Linked DNA regions of Homo sapiens: regions 1, 3 and 4 are each reported to be linked to region 2. The links are microRNA targets in miRTarBase. Many come from high-throughput screens and were not tested one by one. Region 2 holds a microRNA gene; each other region holds the end of a gene's coding sequence.
Evidence for each region. Region 2 holds the annotated microRNA hsa-miR-6799-5p (GGGGAGGUGUGCAGGGCUGG, at 2,352-2,371, opposite strand). A microRNA usually pairs through its seed, bases 2 to 8, with sites in the 3' UTR of a target mRNA and lowers its output. Matches are read on the target gene's strand: a 7mer-m8 pairs with bases 2 to 8, a 7mer-A1 pairs with bases 2 to 7 and ends in A, and an 8mer does both.

Region 1 (4,291 bases), not on the chromosome of region 2:
CTGTCTGGGGCAAGGGAGAAGATAAGAAGGACAGGAAGGAAGTAGATGTATTTTTAAGGAAATCATTGACTTCTGATAGGGTGTTTTGCAGATTTTTTATAGCTTTTGTTTTTGTTTTTTTTTAGAAAGTTTCTCTGTCATCAGGCAAAGACCAGGGTGGGAACAGGAAAACTAGAAAACTGGTCAAGGGAGAACAAGTCCCTTTTCCTCTCACCAGTGAACAGCAGGTGAGGAAACAGACTCTGGGAGGAACGCTGTTCAGGATGGCTTGCTGCCTGCATGGCATGAGGCTGCTGTCTTGTGGGTGCTGGCAGCCACAATCTCCATTTTTCTGAAGACCACCATTTATGGCTAGATCCAGTAGAGGTCCAGAACTTTCCCAACACTGCTGGAGAGGAAGTGTTTCACAGTCAGAGGAGAGAGCCATGGGGAATGGAAGCAGGGGAAGAAGGGGTGGGGAGGGGAGGAGAGATGAGTGGCTCTATGCTAATCTTAGGGTTCCTTCTCTGCCCTTTTGGGTACCAGAGACAGACCCTAGGAAAGGAATTCTGCAGACAGTCTTGGAAGCACCTTCTCTGGCACTTAAGGCTTTTTCCCGAATTTCAGAGACAGAAACATACCCATCCTTGAGCAACTGCAGTGAGGCAGTGTGGAATTCTAGGGTGTTGATAGCTGTGAGCTACCAGGCCTGTTGGACATTTGCATTCTGGCATTTTAATTCCTTGTCCTAAGATTTTGACTCTTTGCCATGTTCTTGGAACTCCTGGATCTTTCTGGAGTCTGATAGCGGATCAAAATCTCAGCTCCATTCAGCAAACACAGACGCTTCTGGGGGAGAGCTAATGGTCATTTTTTCATCATGGATCAATTGTTCAAGATCAAGCACCTTTCTGATCACTCTTGTCCACAGAGAAAAAAACACATTACTCCACAGTTGGCTTCTCAGATTTGATGTCTAGTTGTCAACCTGAGACCTTCCTTGGAAGCATGGCTTCTGCACAAGTGGGTTACATTGACTGTACCACAGTGGCTCTTAAAACAAGGTTTTTGACCTAAGGAGCCTGTTCTCCAGGCTGACCTGAACCCCTCAAAGACATGGCAAGCAGGTGACATTTCTGCCCAGGGGATTTGCTGAGAGATCTGGAAGGTACAAAGCCACCTTAGGCTTCAATGGGTGAGTGAATTTTTACCACAAACCCCAAAGGGCTGATTTGACTTTCTCTATTATGTATATCCAACAGAGAGAGCAGGCTTGGGGAAATTTTGTCTGGACTCAGAAAATTCATCAGTTTCTTGGGAATCATCAGCTACTACACTTGAAAGACCAGAGTATGGTTATTCCCCAACACCAAGTTGGGCCTTAATTTTCCCATCTGACCTGTCTCTAACATGTGAATCAGTCCCACCTTCCCTGACCACATGAGTGAAGTGTTTCTGTGATGCTTGGCTGTAGATGCAGTGTGACAACTGCCTGAAGCACATGATCTCAGGCACCAGATGGCACTGCTGCTCAGTAGAGCCATATGCTAACAGCCTTCCTAGAGGACACTGGTAACAGCATTCTCCCCAACTATTAAGCTTTATTGTTTTGTTTAAGCAAAGACCAAAGAAGCAACGAAGATACAAGAATTAAAACAGCAATCCTTGCTGGGCACGGGGGCTCACGCCTGTAATCCCAGCACTTTGGGAGGCCAATGTGGGCGGGTCACTTGAGGCCAGGAGTTCAAGAACAGCCTGGCCAACATGGTGAAACACCGTCTCCACTAAAAATACAAAAATTAGCCCAGCATGGTGGCACATGCCTGTAATTCCGGCTACTTGGGAGGCTGAGGCAGGAGAATTGCTTGAACCTGGGAGGCAGAGGTTGCAGTGAGCCAAGATCGCACCACTGCACTCCAGCCTGGGAGACAGAGCAAGGCTCTGTGTTAAAAAAAAAAAAAAAAAAAAAAAAAAAAGGCAATCCTCAACATGGTGAGATGCAGCCACACCCAAAGAACCCCAAAAGGGGCCTTATGGTAGCAGGAGGATCCTAAATGTGGACCCTCACAAAGGGAATGCAGCCCAAGTTAAAAGTGCTTCTTCCTTTGTTAAGGAAGTGATTATGTGAATAACCTCAGTATTCTCAGTGGGAAAATATCTGGCAATAAATTTGTAGCCACAACTTGGAAGTTTCTGGAAGAAATCAACCTCCCACAGCCACCTTTGGCTGACTGCTTATGTTAGGTCTGTAGACTTCCTTTCAATCAGCCGGCAAAAGCCCCATCTGGCCACTTGGTCACAGTTTTACTGCTTCTTCACCTTTTGTTCCTATTCACCTACACATCACTTCCTGGAAGTGGACCAGCTTTATAACCAACCTAGAAAGATCAGGTTGAATTTGGCTTTAGAGATCTGAAGCTCCTCAATTTTCTTCCCTCTGTGGAAGTTTTATTAGAATAATCTCTTCCCTTTGTTGTCCTCTTCCTAACTAACCTAATCTCAAGGCTCAAAGCTTTAAAGGCAAATCTTAAAATGTGCTGCATCAGAAAGCCAAGGCAGAAAGCCGATCACCTAACAGGCTATTGTAATTTAAGGCTTCAAATAACTGTTAATAGTGTGTATCTTCTGTTTTGCCTAAAAGAAAGAGGCTGAAATGTCAATTATCATTTAGAGTTGTGAGTGAATTGCATTTTTATTTACGTTTAAGAGTCTCTCTCCCTCCTTGTGTTCTAGTCTGTGAATGGCTCACACTTGGACTTAGTGTAGGCTCCTATGGGAGGAGCGGGCGGTAGTGAGAATCTTCATCAAATGGAGTAACATGACCCAAATCTCTAGAGGTTTCATAATTTTGCTCTTGCTTCTAAAAACATAATCATCTCTTATGGGGTGTTATGTGCTTTGTATCCTGAAATTTTCCACTTGCTGCTTCTTGGTGTGAGGCGAGAAATGCCACCACGTGGCACTGCAGGAGGAGACTGGTGGAAGCCACAGGGCTAGGCCTTCACTTCCCAGTGACACTGTTCCCAATTCCCTCCAGGATAAGCTGAGACTCCTCAGGATGTGGTTCTGCAGCAGATGAGGTGCGAACAAAGCCTGCTCTGCCCTGGGCACCCAGGATGGCACTGAGTTCTAAAAGGCAAAGGGTATGTGGTGAGGGGCCAGGCTGAGGCCCTGGTGTGGTACCATCATGGGCAGCAGCACCATTTGAGGCCGGGTAGGAGAGACGTGCAGGGCCTGGCCCCCCAAGAGACCAGCAGACAAACTGAGGCGGCAGAGAGAGAGATTCCAGTGTCACCAGGAAGACTGCAGATCATAACAACAATGGTTGCTGATTTGGCATCAAAGAGGTGGCACTGTCAAAGCCGTAATTGCTGAAAATGGCACCAACATGCTGCAGCTGGAGAGAGTGGGTGACCAACATTTGTTTGAAGAACAGATGATGCTCTTTGAATGGCTCAGCCAACAGCCCAAAGTTTTAAGGGAAGACCTCTCTGCCAGCTTCTCTTGGACAGTGTCTCATGTAAAACCTCCAAGGCACTTACATAGCATATTTTTGTGTCCACTCTCTTGCTAGTCTGTTGTACCTGGAATAAAAAAGCAGAGGAAGTGACACCCTCACTTGAAATGGTCACTTCCCTTCAATGTGCTGCAGAGAACAGGACTGATGTGGGGAATGCTGCTGCTGCTGCTTGTCAAACATCTACGGCTGATGGGTGAGTGGAATAAAGGCTTTCCCTGGAGCAGGAGCACATCAGACATGGCTGTAAACCCCCAGCTGGGTGAACCCCTCATGTGTAAACCCCAAACTGTTGATTCTCCATAACTATCTGCTGTGGAAGATTTAATAATGCAACAGACTTCCTCCCTTTCTTTCTCCTGTCCTACAATATGGATGCAGGGAGGACAGAGAAGAGACACACAAAGGTCAGTTTGTACTAGTTACAGGCCGTCCAGCACACAAACTCCAGAACAAGGGCTTGGGAATCTGCCTACCGGGGTGTGCATCAGTACAGTCCTCAGCAGCTGTTCCGCCCCTCTGTGTCCTGGCTTTTTTGATTGCTTGCCATGGGGAAAGTATCTGCCTTGTGTGCTTGTGGGGAAACTAGAGAAGTCTGTATGTAAAGCACATGGAGCAGGCCAGGCATCCATTGAAGACTATGCAGGTGTGTGCACTTACTCTCATCATTGTAATGACACTTGATGCTATGAGACTATAAATTAGAGAGATTTATAGTTACAAGAGGCACTGAAAAAAAATCACTTTTGGTATGTCTAAAATATCTTGTAAAAAGTGTTAAAATAAACAAACCCA
Region 2 (4,291 bases):
TGTCTCAAAAAAAAAAAAAACCTGAGAAAGAAACAATGAGTGGGCCAGGCGCAGTGGCTCACGCCGGTAATCCCAGCACTTTAGGAGGCCGAGGCGGGTGGATCACGAGGTCAGGAGATCGAGATCATCCTGGCTAACACGGTGAAACCCTGTCTCTACTAAAAATACAAAAAATTAGCCGGGCATAGTGGCAGGCGCCTGTAGTCCCAGCTACTCGGGAGGCTAAGGCTGGAGAATGGCGTGAACCTGGGAGCTTGCAGTGAGCCGAGATCGCGCCACTGCACTCCAGCCTGGGGACAGAACGAGACTCCGTCTCAAAAAAAAAAAAAAAAAAAAAAAAAAAGAAACAATGAGTGGATGCACGAGCTGGTGTGTTCTTCTCTTTGCCTGCGAATCCAGGCCTCTTCCTGACTGCCCAGGAGATGCGCATGTGTATTCTAAGTCTCAATTCTGGGATCGCCGCCCCCAGGAAGCCTTCGTGGACTCACAGGCTGTGTTAAGTGCCTCCTATGGGTGACCTATCCTACCTCCATTATAGCACGAGTCACCCCTTTTCTGACAATCTGTGACTGAGTCACCTCCCTGCCAGAAGGACAGGGAGCTCCTTAAGAGCAGAGCTTGGTTCTGACTCATCTGTGTCCCTGGTGTCACCCGACATGGAGCCTGGCATGCACAAGGCCTCAGGGGATGTTCCTGGGCAGGACAGGAGCAAAGGTGGGAGAGGGACGCCAGGCAGGAGTGAGAGGCTGCACAGGAAAGAGAGAGGCGGGAGGCAAAGCCAGAAGAGGGAAAGTGGGAGACAGAGAGAGAAGTGGGAGAGGGAGGAGGTCATGAGGGCGGCTGGCTCCCGGGGTGCTCGGCCCGCGAGGCCCTGTTCTGAGCACTCTATCCACAGCGCTCTGTGCCTCCAGGTGGGCACCGGTATTATCCCCACTGAACACAGGGGGCAGCTGAGGCCAGGGAGGTGAAGCCACTTGTCCAGGGCCACCCAGCCAGGAAGAGGCCGAGCCAGGATGAATCCAGCTCAGAGCCTGAGTTTGTAAACCTTGGGCTGGGCTGCCTCTCAGGGAGAGTGGGGGCCTGAGGGGTGTCAGAGGGCATAGGGATGCCAGGGCCACCTCCAGCAGCCAATATCTAGGCCACACCCACCCGGCTCAGGCGCGACACAGCCAGAGAGACGCACGTCTTGAAGTCATCTGGGTTCTTCTTGCAGAGACAGGTGATGAGGCTGACGGCGGCCGTGACCACACCCTGCAGGGGCAGAGGAGAGACAAGTCAGGCCCCTGGGGGAGGTGGTACCTGAGAGCAGAGGCTCAGGAGCGGGACAGGGTCGGGATGTGTGTGCAGTCGGGAAGATGGGGTTTAGGGGTGTGCACATGTGTCACTGTGCGTGCTTTAGGGGTGGGGTGAGGAGGCCACGGGGCCTCGGGCGCCATGGCCAGCACTGACCTGGGTGTGTGGGGTGTCCCTGGCAGGACCCCAGGCAGCTGGGTAAGGAGCAGTGAAGGGGCGAGACTCTAGAGGGTTGGGACTGTGGGGGTGGGACAGTCAAGGTTTCTGCGCTGGTGCGCAGGTGATGGGCGCTGTTGGGGGAATCTCCAGGTATTAGAAACAGAGTGGGATTTTCTAAGGGACTGGGTGGTTGGTGAGGGGTGTGGGGGTCACTGGACAGGATCCCTGGCCAGCCAGGGGAGTGTCAGAGATGGGGATGGGAGGGTTTCTGGACACTTGGGCAGGTAATGAGTACCGGGGACACTGGATCATGGTTTCTGGTGTCTGGTGAACGTCAGCGCCGAGGGGGAAGCTCCAGGAATCCAGGGGGATCAGGGCTGAGGTGGGAGCCCCAGGCATCCAGGGGGCGTGAGGGCTGAGGTGGGAGCCCTGGGTATCCGGGGGCGTGAGGGCTGAGGTGGGAGCCCTGGGTATCCGGGGGCGTGAGGGCTGAGGTGGGAGCCCTGGGCATCCAGGGGGCGTGAGGGCTGAGGTGGGAGCCCTGGGTATCCGGGGGCGTGAGGGCTGAGGTGGGAGCCCCGGGCATCCAGGGGGTGCGTGGGCTGAGGTGGGAGCCCTGGGTATCCGGGGGTGTGAGGGCTGAGGTGGGAGCCCCGGGCATCCAGGGGGGTCAGGGCTGAGGTGGGAGCCCTGGGTATCCGGGGGTGTGAGGGCTGGGGGCTCACCATGTGCTGGTCATTGAGCAGGTGTACCACACGCGCCGTCCACTCGCCCATGGGCACCAGGTCAGGCGAGGCCTTGTACAGTCGAAGGAGGCACAGGGCCGCACTCTGCTTGACACTGTCCATGCTGTCCCTGTGGGGACACCATGCAGGGCAGGGGAAGCAGAGTCAGTGACCCCAGCCCTGCACACCTCCCCTCCTCTCCTGTTCCTCCCAGGAAGGGTGTGCGAGGCCAGCGAGAGGGACAGACAGCCAGGCGGCCGCAGGATCCAGTCTGGCGCTGACCTCACGGCCCACCAGGACTCAGTGTCTTCATCTGCAAAATGATTGCATCTCAGTAACCTCACAGGGCTCAGGAACATGTCAAGCCTGGCTCTGCACCTTCATTCATTCACCAAGCACCTACTGGGTGCCCATGGGGTACCAGGCACTGCTGTTCACTCCATGGATAGAGTGGTGAATAAAGTGGTCCAAACACTTGTCCTCACAGGGCTTACATTTCAGACAGCACCACGAAAACACATACATCAAATACTGTCAGGGCTGGGCATGGTGGCTCACGCCTATAATCCCAGCACTTTGGGAGGTCGAGGTGGGAGGATCACTTGAGGCCATGAATTCAAGACCAGCCTGGGCGACAGTGAGACCCAGTCTCTTCAAAAATACAAAAATTAGCTGGGTGTGGTGGCGCAGGCTTGTAATCCCAGCTACTCGGGAGGGTGAGGTGGGAGGATTGCTCGAGACTGGGAGGTCGAGGCGGCAGTGCACCATGACTGTGCCACTGCACTCCCTCTAGCTTGGGCAACAGAGTTAGAGCTGTCTCTAAATAAATAAAAAAATTTAAAAATAAACAAAACAGAGTAACTTAAGGAGGAAAGACTGAAAATCCTCTGCAACAGAACATCCCAGGCAGAGGGAACAGCCTGTGCCAAGGCCATCAGGAAGGCGGAGCCCGTGTGTAGGAGGAGCAGCAAGGAGGCCTGCAGGCTGCGGCCTGAGCCATGGGGCAGGAGGGCTGCAGATAGGACAGGGAGGGAACAGAGAGCCAGACCCTGCAGGGCCTTGTTGGCTGAAGTGAGGACTTGGCTTTTTACCGATTGGGAGATGAAAGCCGCTGTGGGTGGTGAGCAGAGAATCAGCGTGATGTTAACACGACAGCAGGAACAGCTGCCCCCGGACCCCTTCGGCCTGTCCAGCACTCCCACAGGTCTCTGGGTGGATTCACACGTTTATCTTCTCTCCACAACAAACTGAGAAAATGGGTGTATTTTTGATCTGGCTTAGGTTTTTAAAGGGTCCCTCTGCCTGTTGTGAGGGAACAGACTTTGCAAGGCTCTTTTGAATCCAAGGGAATATATTCACAGGTTCTGGGGGTTAGGGTGGCTCACGCCTGTAATCCCAGCACTTTAGGAGGCTGAGGTGGGAGAATCACTTGAGCCCAAGAGTTGGAGACCAGCCTGGGCAACATGGTGAGACCCCCATCTCTACTAGAAATATGAGAATTAGCCAAGCGTGGTGGCGCATGCCTGTAGACCCACCTACTTGGCAGGCTGAGGTGGGAGGATCGCTTTAGCCTGGGAGGTGAAGGCTGCAGCCTGGGTGGCAGAGCAAGACCCTGTCTCCAAACAAAAAAAAGGGTGGGGGTACTTTGCAGATATGATAAAGTTAAGGATCATGAGATGGAGAGAGGATCCTGGGTGATCCAGGTGGACCCAATGTCATCACAGGGTCCTTATAAGGGAAAGATACAGTTCAGAGTCAGAGATGATGTGAGGATGGAACAGAGGTCAGGCAGGAGAGAAGATGCCACACTGCTGCCTTTGGGGATGGGGGAAGGGGCCACGAGCCAAGGAAAGCAGGTGGCCTCTAGGAGCTGGAGAAGGCAAGGACGCGGCCTCTCCTCTAGGGCCCCCGGAAGGGACGAGCCCTGCCCACGCCTTGATTTTAGCCCCGTGAGATGGATGTTGGACTTCCGACATCCAGAACCGGTGTTTGACACCGCTGTGCTGGTGGTAATTCATCACAGCAGTCACAGGAAACCAGGGTCAGCACTTGCCTGGCACAGAACCTGGCAGCCAGCGGGCAGCCCATCTCAGAGGGCTGACTCCAGGCCCCAA
Region 3 (4,176 bases), not on the chromosome of region 2:
CCCAGATTTTTCTCATTTAGATCATAAACATAATAGAAAGGGCTAGAATTGCAATCTTGTGTAACTTAAAAAGCAGCTAGTTTTTATTTCCTAGGTTCGTTCCACCAGTCATAAACCAGATGAAATCTATGGCATGATTGAAAGACTATCTCCTGGCACTCGCAAGATTGAGTTATTTGGACGACCACACAATGTGCAACCCAACTGGTAAGGTGACCAGAGAACAGGCTAGTCCTCAAGGGGCTATTATTTATGATTAAGGACAGAACTTAGTAGAGCTTCACATTGTTTTACACTAGTCCATAAATGAGCTTCACAGGATTCATAAGCCACTTAAGCTTGTATTTAAACTGTTTTATGAGATTCTACAAATATTCATTAGAAACTCAACAGGTTCTAGGACCCAAAAGCACTGCTCCCTAGGGTTTCTACTCTCTTCACAACCCAAGGATCTTCCTCAGCCATTCTGTGATGTATTGAATCTGCCCCCTGGTGGTTACGAAGTTATCTATTTAATCTGTCAATAATTACATCTTTCACCCCTTAACAGAGCTTAAAACACATGCTGCTAGCATTTTGCTTATCCAAAGAATACTCCCTGGTAGCAACTCTGTGAAGCAGGCCTGGCTAAGCATTAGTTACTAACCCTCAGATAATACAGATCCAGTCTATTTTAACACCAGAATCTATGCCAATTCTGAACTAGTAATTCTACCATATACTATTCTAATGTTAAGCTCTTTTTAGAATTGGCATATTTGATATGATGATAGGCAGTCTTCATTTGGTATGCATTTTTTAACAATATTAAACCCTCTAATTCCAGGATTTCTGGTTTGCCCCTCCTTTTACACTGTTTCAGGATCACCCTTGGAAACCAACTGGATGGGATCCACCTACTAGACCCAGATGTGGTTGCACGGTTCAAGCAAAGGTACCCAGATGGTATCATCTCTAAACCTAAGAATTTATAGAAGCACTTCCTTACAGAGCTAAGAATCCATAGCCATGGCTCTGTAAGCTAAACCTGAAGAGTGATATTTGTACAATAGCTTTCTTCTTTATTTAAATAAACATTTGTATTGTAGTTGGGATTCTGAAGTCCATTCTGGCTCTGCTACTTAACAGTGTATAATCTTGTGCAACTCATCTCTCAGTATTATATGTGAAATGGGAGTATTACCTCATTGGGTTGCTGTGAAGGTTCAAACTAAATGAGTGCATGGGAAACATTAAAATGATCATTATAGGCTAGGCACAGTGGCTCACACCTGTAATCCGAGCACTTTGGGAAGCCGAGGTAGGAGGGTAACTGTAGCCCAGGAGTTCAAGACTAGACTGGGCAACATAGTGAGACCCCATCTCTACTGCTACCCTCCAAAACCATTAAAAAAACAGGAATGCAGGCTGGGTGCGGTGGCTCATGCCTGTAATCCCAGCACTTTGGGAGGTCAAGGCGGGCGGATCATGAGGTCAGGAGTTCGAGACCAGCCTGGCCAACATGGTGAAACCCTGTCTCTACTAAAAATACCACAAATTAGCTGGGCGTAGTGGCGGGCGCCTGTAATCCTAGCTACTCGGGAGGCTGATGCAGGAGAATCGCTTGAACCCGGGAGGCAGAGGTTTCAGTGAGCTGAGGTCGCACCACTGCACTCCAGCCTGGGTGACAGAGCGAGACTCTGTCTCAAAAAAAAAAAAAAAAAAAAAAAACAAAAAACACACAGAAAACAGGAATGCATAGGATAAAACTATGTACGTAGCTGGTTGAGGAGGAGGTTCTCTAGGACAGCATTCCTGTCTACAAACAGTAAAAATTTGAGTTTTATTTAAAGTTATCACCACTTGGACTATCATGCTGTAAACTTCTGCTTATTCTGTTACAACCAGGTGGCTTCTCTAGTCTGTTTTTCTTTAGATTATGTCTAAGAAATAATGATAGACCTATGGTCTTTTAAAGATAGTTCATCAAACACAAGTGAATACAACTTTAGACTTTGGTGGAACCTCTTACTAATGATGTAGAGTTCCGCCTCTTAGATTCATGAACTGTGATAACTCAGATAAGGATGGTAACTGCAGAAATAATATATATAAAGAGAAATCACTCCTGGGTGATGTCATTTTCCATGTAGCCCAGTATGCCCATGTTGAAAAGTTTTGTTTTCAAAGCAGTGTACTGATGTGATAATGGGGAATAACATTTTTTTATGAGGGAACCCTTTAAAATGGATGCACACAGTGGCATTTTCTCCTAGGCTCAAAGCTGAGTACACTCCCGTAATTTTAATAATATTTTAGGCAAGTCCTATGACAATTATACCAACAAGTTTCTTCAACCCCACCACCACCCCACCATCTCTATGCTTTGCTTGCCCAGACTCCCTTCACCCTTTCCTCTGCTATTACCGCTTATGGTTGAAAGTAAAAAGCATCTCCAGATTACAGCAAATTCAGTGGCCCTGCTCCATAGCCTGGCCTCTGCTGAAGGAAGAAAAGGGGTGAAACATGAACAGCCATCATGGGTTGTGATGAGGCACTACCAGAAGCCCAGCTTGTGTTTCAAAAACAGGCTCTTGGACACTTTCCCAGCAGATAACTCTTCACTGGCTTGGAGAACAGGAAGGACTATTTCACAAACACCACTGTGTTTGAATTTCTAGAGGCTACCCAGGCCAAGAATACATCCCTAAGAGAGAAAAAGACATACACAAACAGAATTATACACAAACTGAAATAGAATTACAGCCTAGATACATTTTTTTTTTTGAGACGGACCTCATGGGTTCACGCCATTCTCCTGCCTTAGCCTCCCGAGTAGCTGGGACTACAGGTGCCCACCACCATGCCCGGCCAATTTTTTGTATTTTTAGTGGGGACAGGGTTTCACTGTGTTAGCCAGGATGGTCTTGATCTCCTGACCCCGTGAATCGCCCGCTTTGGCCTCCCAAAGTGCTGGGATTACAAGCGTGAGCCACCGCGCCCGGCCGCTACATTCTTTTTATCTTTTTTTTTTTTTTTTTGAGATGGAGTCTCGCTGTTGCCCAGGCTGGAGTGCAGTGGCGTGATCTTCTTGGCTCACTGCAACCTCCACCTCCCAGGTTCAAGAGATTCTCCTGCTTCAGCCTCCTGAGTAGCCAGGACTACAGGTGCCTGCCACCATGCCCGGCTAATTTTTGTATTTTTAGTAGAGATGGGGTTTCACTGTATGGCCCAGCTGGATTTTTTATCTGTCTTAAACAAATAGGTTCCCAGATAATTTCCTACAGCATTATGGTGAGATAGTATCACCTTGAAAATATAAGAACAGTGGGCTTAAAAGTCAGAAGTAGAGGCAATGCTAATTTACTGCAGAGTTTTTGAAATAGGAAATAGAAATGCCTTGTCCTACAGCTATAGGAAATTCCCAGGAAAATTTGGGGAGAGGGGTAAAATATTCCAACCATCTCCCCATTTCCTTCACAAATTGCAAATTATTATGTGTTACTTTCCACTTACCATTTCTCCCCAAATTCTAGTTCCCTAAGTAGTCTGATTTGCACCAAGAATTGAAAAGCTAATATTTGCAAACACTAACAGCTTAATGTATTATATTTTTAAAGAGCATACATAAGAGAGGTATGTGGTAACTGAAAAATGTGAACTGCTGATTACATCATCTTTGGCTTATGTGGCAAATGTAAGCTCTTAAGCAGGGGAGCTTTTCTAGTAGACCAGATACAGCAACCTACTCTACCTAAGGTAAGGTGACACTGAGATGCTGATTTTATGCTCAAGATTCCTATGTTTCCCAGTAGAATTGACCAGTAGCTGAATTATAAAAGGGAGAACTGTAAGCTCACCTGCAGTGCTTCACCACACACTCATTGCTGCAGTATTCATTGTCCCAGTCCTTACTCACAATGGGAGGGTTCTCACAACCAGACCTCACACATCGAGGCTGGGGTGAGAGTGCCACAGGAGACCCACTCACCAATTCAACATCCATCTGAGAAGGAGACTCAACCTGTGAGAAGAAGAAGAGTACCAAGGTGGATTAGATTGCTCCCTGCCTAGCTAGCTAGTTAGCTAAATTATCTGTAGAAACCAATGAAGCAACAGGTATTAGAATTCCTCACACTGGGGGGCAAAACTGCAGAAGAAGGTGAGTTCTTGGTCTCCCCTCTATAGTCCAGCTTC
Region 4 (4,291 bases), not on the chromosome of region 2:
TCACGTGATAGATGTAAATGACAATGCTCCTGAAATCACTGTGTCATCAATTACCAGTCCAATCCCAGAAAATACGCCAGAGACCGTGGTTATGGTTTTTAGTATCCAAGATATAGACTCTGGGGACAACGGAAGAATTGTTTGTTCCATTCCGGAAGACCTCCCATTCGTGCTAAAATCTTCAGTTGAGAATTACTACACGTTGGAAACAGAGAGACCACTGGACAGAGAGAGCACAGCCGAGTACAATATCACCATCACCGTCACCGACTTGGGGATACCCAGGCTGAAAACCGAGCACAACACAACTGTGTTGGTCTCTGACGTCAATGACAACGCCCCCACCTTCACCCAAACCTCCTACACCCTGTTCGTCCGCGAGAACAACAGCCCCGCCCTGCACATCGGCAGTGTCAGCGCTACAGACAGAGACTCAGGCACCAACGCCCAGGTCAACTACTCGCTACTCCCGCCCCAGGACCTGCACCTGCCCCTCGCCTCCCTGGTCTCCATCAACACAGACAACGGCCACCTGTTCGCCCTCAGGTCGCTGGACTACGAGGCCCTGCAGGCTTTCGACTTCCGCGTGGGCGCCACAGACCGCGGCTCCCCGGCTTTGAGCAGCGAGGCGCTGGTGCGCGTGCTGGTGCTGGACGCCAACGACAACTCGCCCTTCGTGCTGTACCCGCTGCAGAACGGCTCCGCGCCCTGCACCGAGCTGGTGCCCCGGGCGGCCGAGCCGGGCTACCTGGTGACCAAGGTGGTGGCGGTGGACGGCGACTCGGGCCAGAACGCCTGGCTGTCGTACCAGCTGCTCAAGGCCACGGAGCCCGGGCTATTCGGCGTGTGGGCGCACAATGGCGAGGTGCGCACCGCCAGGCTGCTGAGCGAGCGCGACGCGGCCAAGCACAGGCTGGTGGTGCTGGTCAAGGACAATGGCGAGCCTCCGCGCTCGGCCACCGCCACGCTGCAAGTGCTCCTGGTGGACGGCTTCTCCCAGCCCTACCTGCCGCTCCCTGAGGCGGCACCGGCCCAGGCCCAGGCCGACTCGCTCACCGTCTACTTGGTGGTGGCGTTGGCCTCGGTGTCTTCGCTCTTCCTCTTCTCGGTGCTCCTGTTCGTGGCGGTGCGGCTGTGCAGGAGGAGCAGGGCGGCCTCGGTGGGAAGCTGCTCGGTGCCTAAGGGCCCCTTTCCAGGGCATCTGGTGGACGTGAGCGGCACCGGGACCCTTTCCCAGAGCTACCAGTACGAGGTGTGTCTGACGGGAGGTTCCGAGACAAATGAATTCAAGTTCCTAAAACCGGTTATCCCTAATATCCAGGCAAAAGGTCTTGGGAAGAATAGTGAAGAAAACTCCACCTTTCGAAATAGCTTTGGATTTAATTTTTAGTAAGAATGCTATTTACATTTGCATGTACTTTTTTAGTTTTATGTAACCATATCAATATTATTTAGTCTTAAACTAGTTACGTTATTATGCAATACGACTAATTGTATTTTTAATTTTTTCTTTTCTCCCCCAATTTTTTTTTTTTTTTTGAGACCGAGTCTCATTCTGTCGCCCTGGCTGGAGTGCAATGGTGTGATCTCAGCTCACTGCACCCTCCGCCTCTCGGGTTCAAGCAATTCTCCTGCATCAGCCTCCCGAGTAGCTGGCATTACAGGCGCCCACCACCACGCTCGGCTAAATTTTTTTTTTTTTTATCTTTAGTAGAGACGGGGTTTCACCACGTTGGCCGGGCAGGTTTTAAACTCTTGACCTCATGTTCCACCCGCCACGGCCTCCCAAAGTGCTGTGATTACCGGTGTGAGCCACTGCGCCCGGCCTTTTTTTTTTCTTTTCTTTTCTTTTTTTTGATACAGAGTCTTAGTCACCCAGACTAGAGGTCAGTGGCAGGATCTCAGCTCACTGCAACCTCTGCCTCCTGGGCTCAAGAGACCAGCCCACCTCCGCCTCCAAGTAGCTGGGACTACAGGCGTGCGCCACCATGCCCGGCTACTTCTTGTATTTTTTGTAGAGACGGATCGTCACCATATTTCTTAGGCTGGCCTTTAACTTCTGAGCTCAAGAGATGCACTCCCCTCAGCCTCCCAAAGTGCTGGGATTACAGGCGGCCAGGCCTATTTTCAATTTTCAAGTATTGCATATCATTGTGAATAACATTGTAAATCCTTTTTATATTAAGTAACAGGTAGTTAATCCATTTCTAATGAATAATTTTAAGGTTTTAATCCTTTCCAAGTGTACAATAATTTACTGATTATTATTTCTTATTCTAGAAAACTGACTTTGATTTTTCTCTTAGGTTGTTTTGTTTTGTTTTGTTTTTTGAGACGATGTTTCACTCTTGTCGCCCAGGCTGGTGTGCAATGGCGTGATCTCGGCTCACTGCAGTCTCTGCCTCCCGGGTTCTCCTGCCTCAGCCTCCCGAGTAGCTGGGATTACAGGTGCACCACCACACCCAGCTAATTTTGCATTTTTAGTAGAGACGGGGTTTCACCATGTTGGTCAGGCTGGTCTCTAACTCTTGATATCAGTGATCCGCCCGCCTCAGCCTCCCAAAAAGCTGGGATTACAGGCGTGAGCCACCGTGCCCAGGCTCCCCTAGTATTTTTCACTGTCTGCATCCTATGATCCTAACCACCTGTGTATTGTAGTTTCTTCATGGGAGAAGTCATATCTGCCCTTCCAACCTTATTCTAACATTCTATTTATTCATTTAAAAAGCCACATCATCTAGTTCTAAATCACAGCATTTAAAGAGAAACATTTCATTATTAATGTGCTCATGGTAAATTAAATATTATTTTGTGATCAATATTATACTTCAATACTAACTTTGTGCTTGTATTATTTTCTTAAATATACTACACTTACTTGGCTAATATTTTTAATGCTTTTGTGTGTGTATATATATATATAGAGAGAGAGAGAGATCATGGCTTATAATCCAAACAAAATGTAATAAACTGCATGAAAATAAATAGGAATATTAAAACATTTTGATAATTTTGGGATGAGGATATTGGTGGACTGTTGGAAAGATATTCACTTTTCCTTTTATTTTGTAAATTTATTTCATTATTTTCAAATGTAAAAATCAAGATGAACTAAAGGTTGAAAGAAAAACAAGGCCTGCCTCAGTGGCTTGGCTGGGTGGGTTAGATCACACCTGTAATCTCAGCACTTTGGAAGGCTGAGGCGGGCGGGTCACCTGAGGTTGGGAGTTCAAGACCAGCCTGGCCAACACAGTGAAACCCCATCTACACTAAAAAATACAAGAAGTAGCTGGGTGTGGTGGTGCGTGCCTATAATCCCAGCTACTCAGGAGGCTGAGACAGGAGAATCACTTGAACCCAGGAGGCAGAGGTTGCAGTGAGCCAAGATCTTGCCACTGCACTCCAGCCTGGGTGACAGAGCGATACTCCGTCTCAAAAAAAAAAAAAAAAAAAAAAAAAAGAAAGAAAGAAAAGAAAAGAACAGAACAATATTTTCTTTAATTTCCAGTCTCCTTCTATTGAGTGGCTTCTTCTAGAATTACCTCAATACTTCTAAATGATATGTTTTTGCTGTTAAATCTTGCTACTCCATTTTACATTTTAATCACTTCTTGCTATGTATTTTTTAAAAAAGATTTAACTTTCTTTTCAACTAATGTAAACCAATATAAGCACTGCACATTCCCTTTCTCCTATTCTCCCAATAAAATTGTTACAGTTTTTTTTTTCTTTTTGACAGAGTCTTACTCTGTCGCCCAGGTTGGAGTACAGTGGTGTGATCTCAGCTCACTGTAACCTCTGCTTCCCAGGTTCAAGTGATTCTCCTGCCTCAGCCTCCTGAATAGCTGGGATTACAGGCACCCACCACCACACCTGGCTAGTTTTGTAGCTTTAGTAGAGATGGGGTTTCACCATGTTGGCCAGGCTTGTCTTGAACTCCTGACCCCAGCTGATCCTCCTGCCTCAGCCTCCCAAAGTGTTGAGATTACAGGCGTGAGCCACAGTGCCCAGCCTACAGTTTTTTTTAAGTTAAACTAATAGTGTCCATATTGCTAAGCTTTCTTCAAAATACACATTAGTGTAGTGTGATTAAATTTCCTTTCTTGAGAAACATTTTTCCTAGAACTGAAAATTGTTTTGTACTTACATAATTTTCCATTTACTAATATTAGTTTCTTTACATTCTCTAATTTGAATCTCTTTCTTCTCAAAATATTCAAATATATCAGATACCTGTCAATTATGTTTATTTCTTGGTGATCTTGCACCCAGATCTCTACTTCATTCATAC

Region 1: the mRNA of UBE2D4 is a reported target of hsa-miR-6799-5p. Seed matches in the 3' UTR shown: 7mer-A1 at 2,753-2,759, 7mer-A1 at 1,852-1,858, 7mer-A1 at 1,820-1,826, 7mer-A1 at 1,685-1,691 and 7mer-A1 at 244-250.
Region 3: miRTarBase lists TOX4 as a target of hsa-miR-6799-5p. Seed matches in the 3' UTR shown: 8mer at 1,445-1,452.
Region 4: miRTarBase lists PCDHB11 as a target of hsa-miR-6799-5p. Seed matches in the 3' UTR shown: 7mer-A1 at 1,782-1,788, 7mer-A1 at 2,088-2,094 and 7mer-A1 at 2,556-2,562.

The regions. Positions count from the first base shown.
Region 1 is chr7:43,951,922-43,956,212 of GRCh38, reverse strand. UBE2D4 (ubiquitin conjugating enzyme E2 D4) reads right to left here. Exons shown (of 7, transcript NM_015983.4): 7 at 77-3,563. The coding sequence ends at 3,518. It also overlaps the pseudogene POLR2J4. Among named protein-coding and RNA genes, the nearest start is that of UBE2D4, 28 kb to the right of the region's middle. RefSeq lists silencers at 1,415-1,464, 1,505-1,574.
Region 2 is chr19:49,789,951-49,794,241 of GRCh38, reverse strand. It overlaps MIR6799 (microRNA 6799), which reads right to left and starts at 2,376; the gene lies at 2,308-2,376. It overlaps AP2A1 (adaptor related protein complex 2 subunit alpha 1), which reads right to left. Exons shown (of 23, transcript NM_130787.3): 5 at 2,178-2,307; 6 at 1,150-1,251.
Region 3 is chr14:21,495,056-21,499,231 of GRCh38, reverse strand. It overlaps TOX4 (TOX high mobility group box family member 4), which reads right to left. Exons shown (of 9, transcript NM_014828.4): 8 at 3,840-4,003; 9 at 62-2,686. The coding sequence ends at 2,626. It overlaps METTL3 (methyltransferase 3, N6-adenosine-methyltransferase complex catalytic subunit), which reads left to right. Exons shown (of 11, transcript NM_019852.5): 10 at 95-207; 11 at 863-1,094. The coding sequence ends at 974. Among named protein-coding and RNA genes, the nearest start is that of METTL3, 14 kb to the left of the region's middle. RefSeq lists enhancers at 391-440, 471-560.
Region 4 is chr5:141,200,779-141,205,069 of GRCh38, forward strand. PCDHB11 (protocadherin beta 11) reads left to right here. Exons shown (of 1, transcript NM_018931.3): 1 at 1-3,001. The coding sequence ends at 1,390. It also overlaps PCDHB@. Among named protein-coding and RNA genes, the nearest start is that of PCDHB11, 3.3 kb to the left of the region's middle.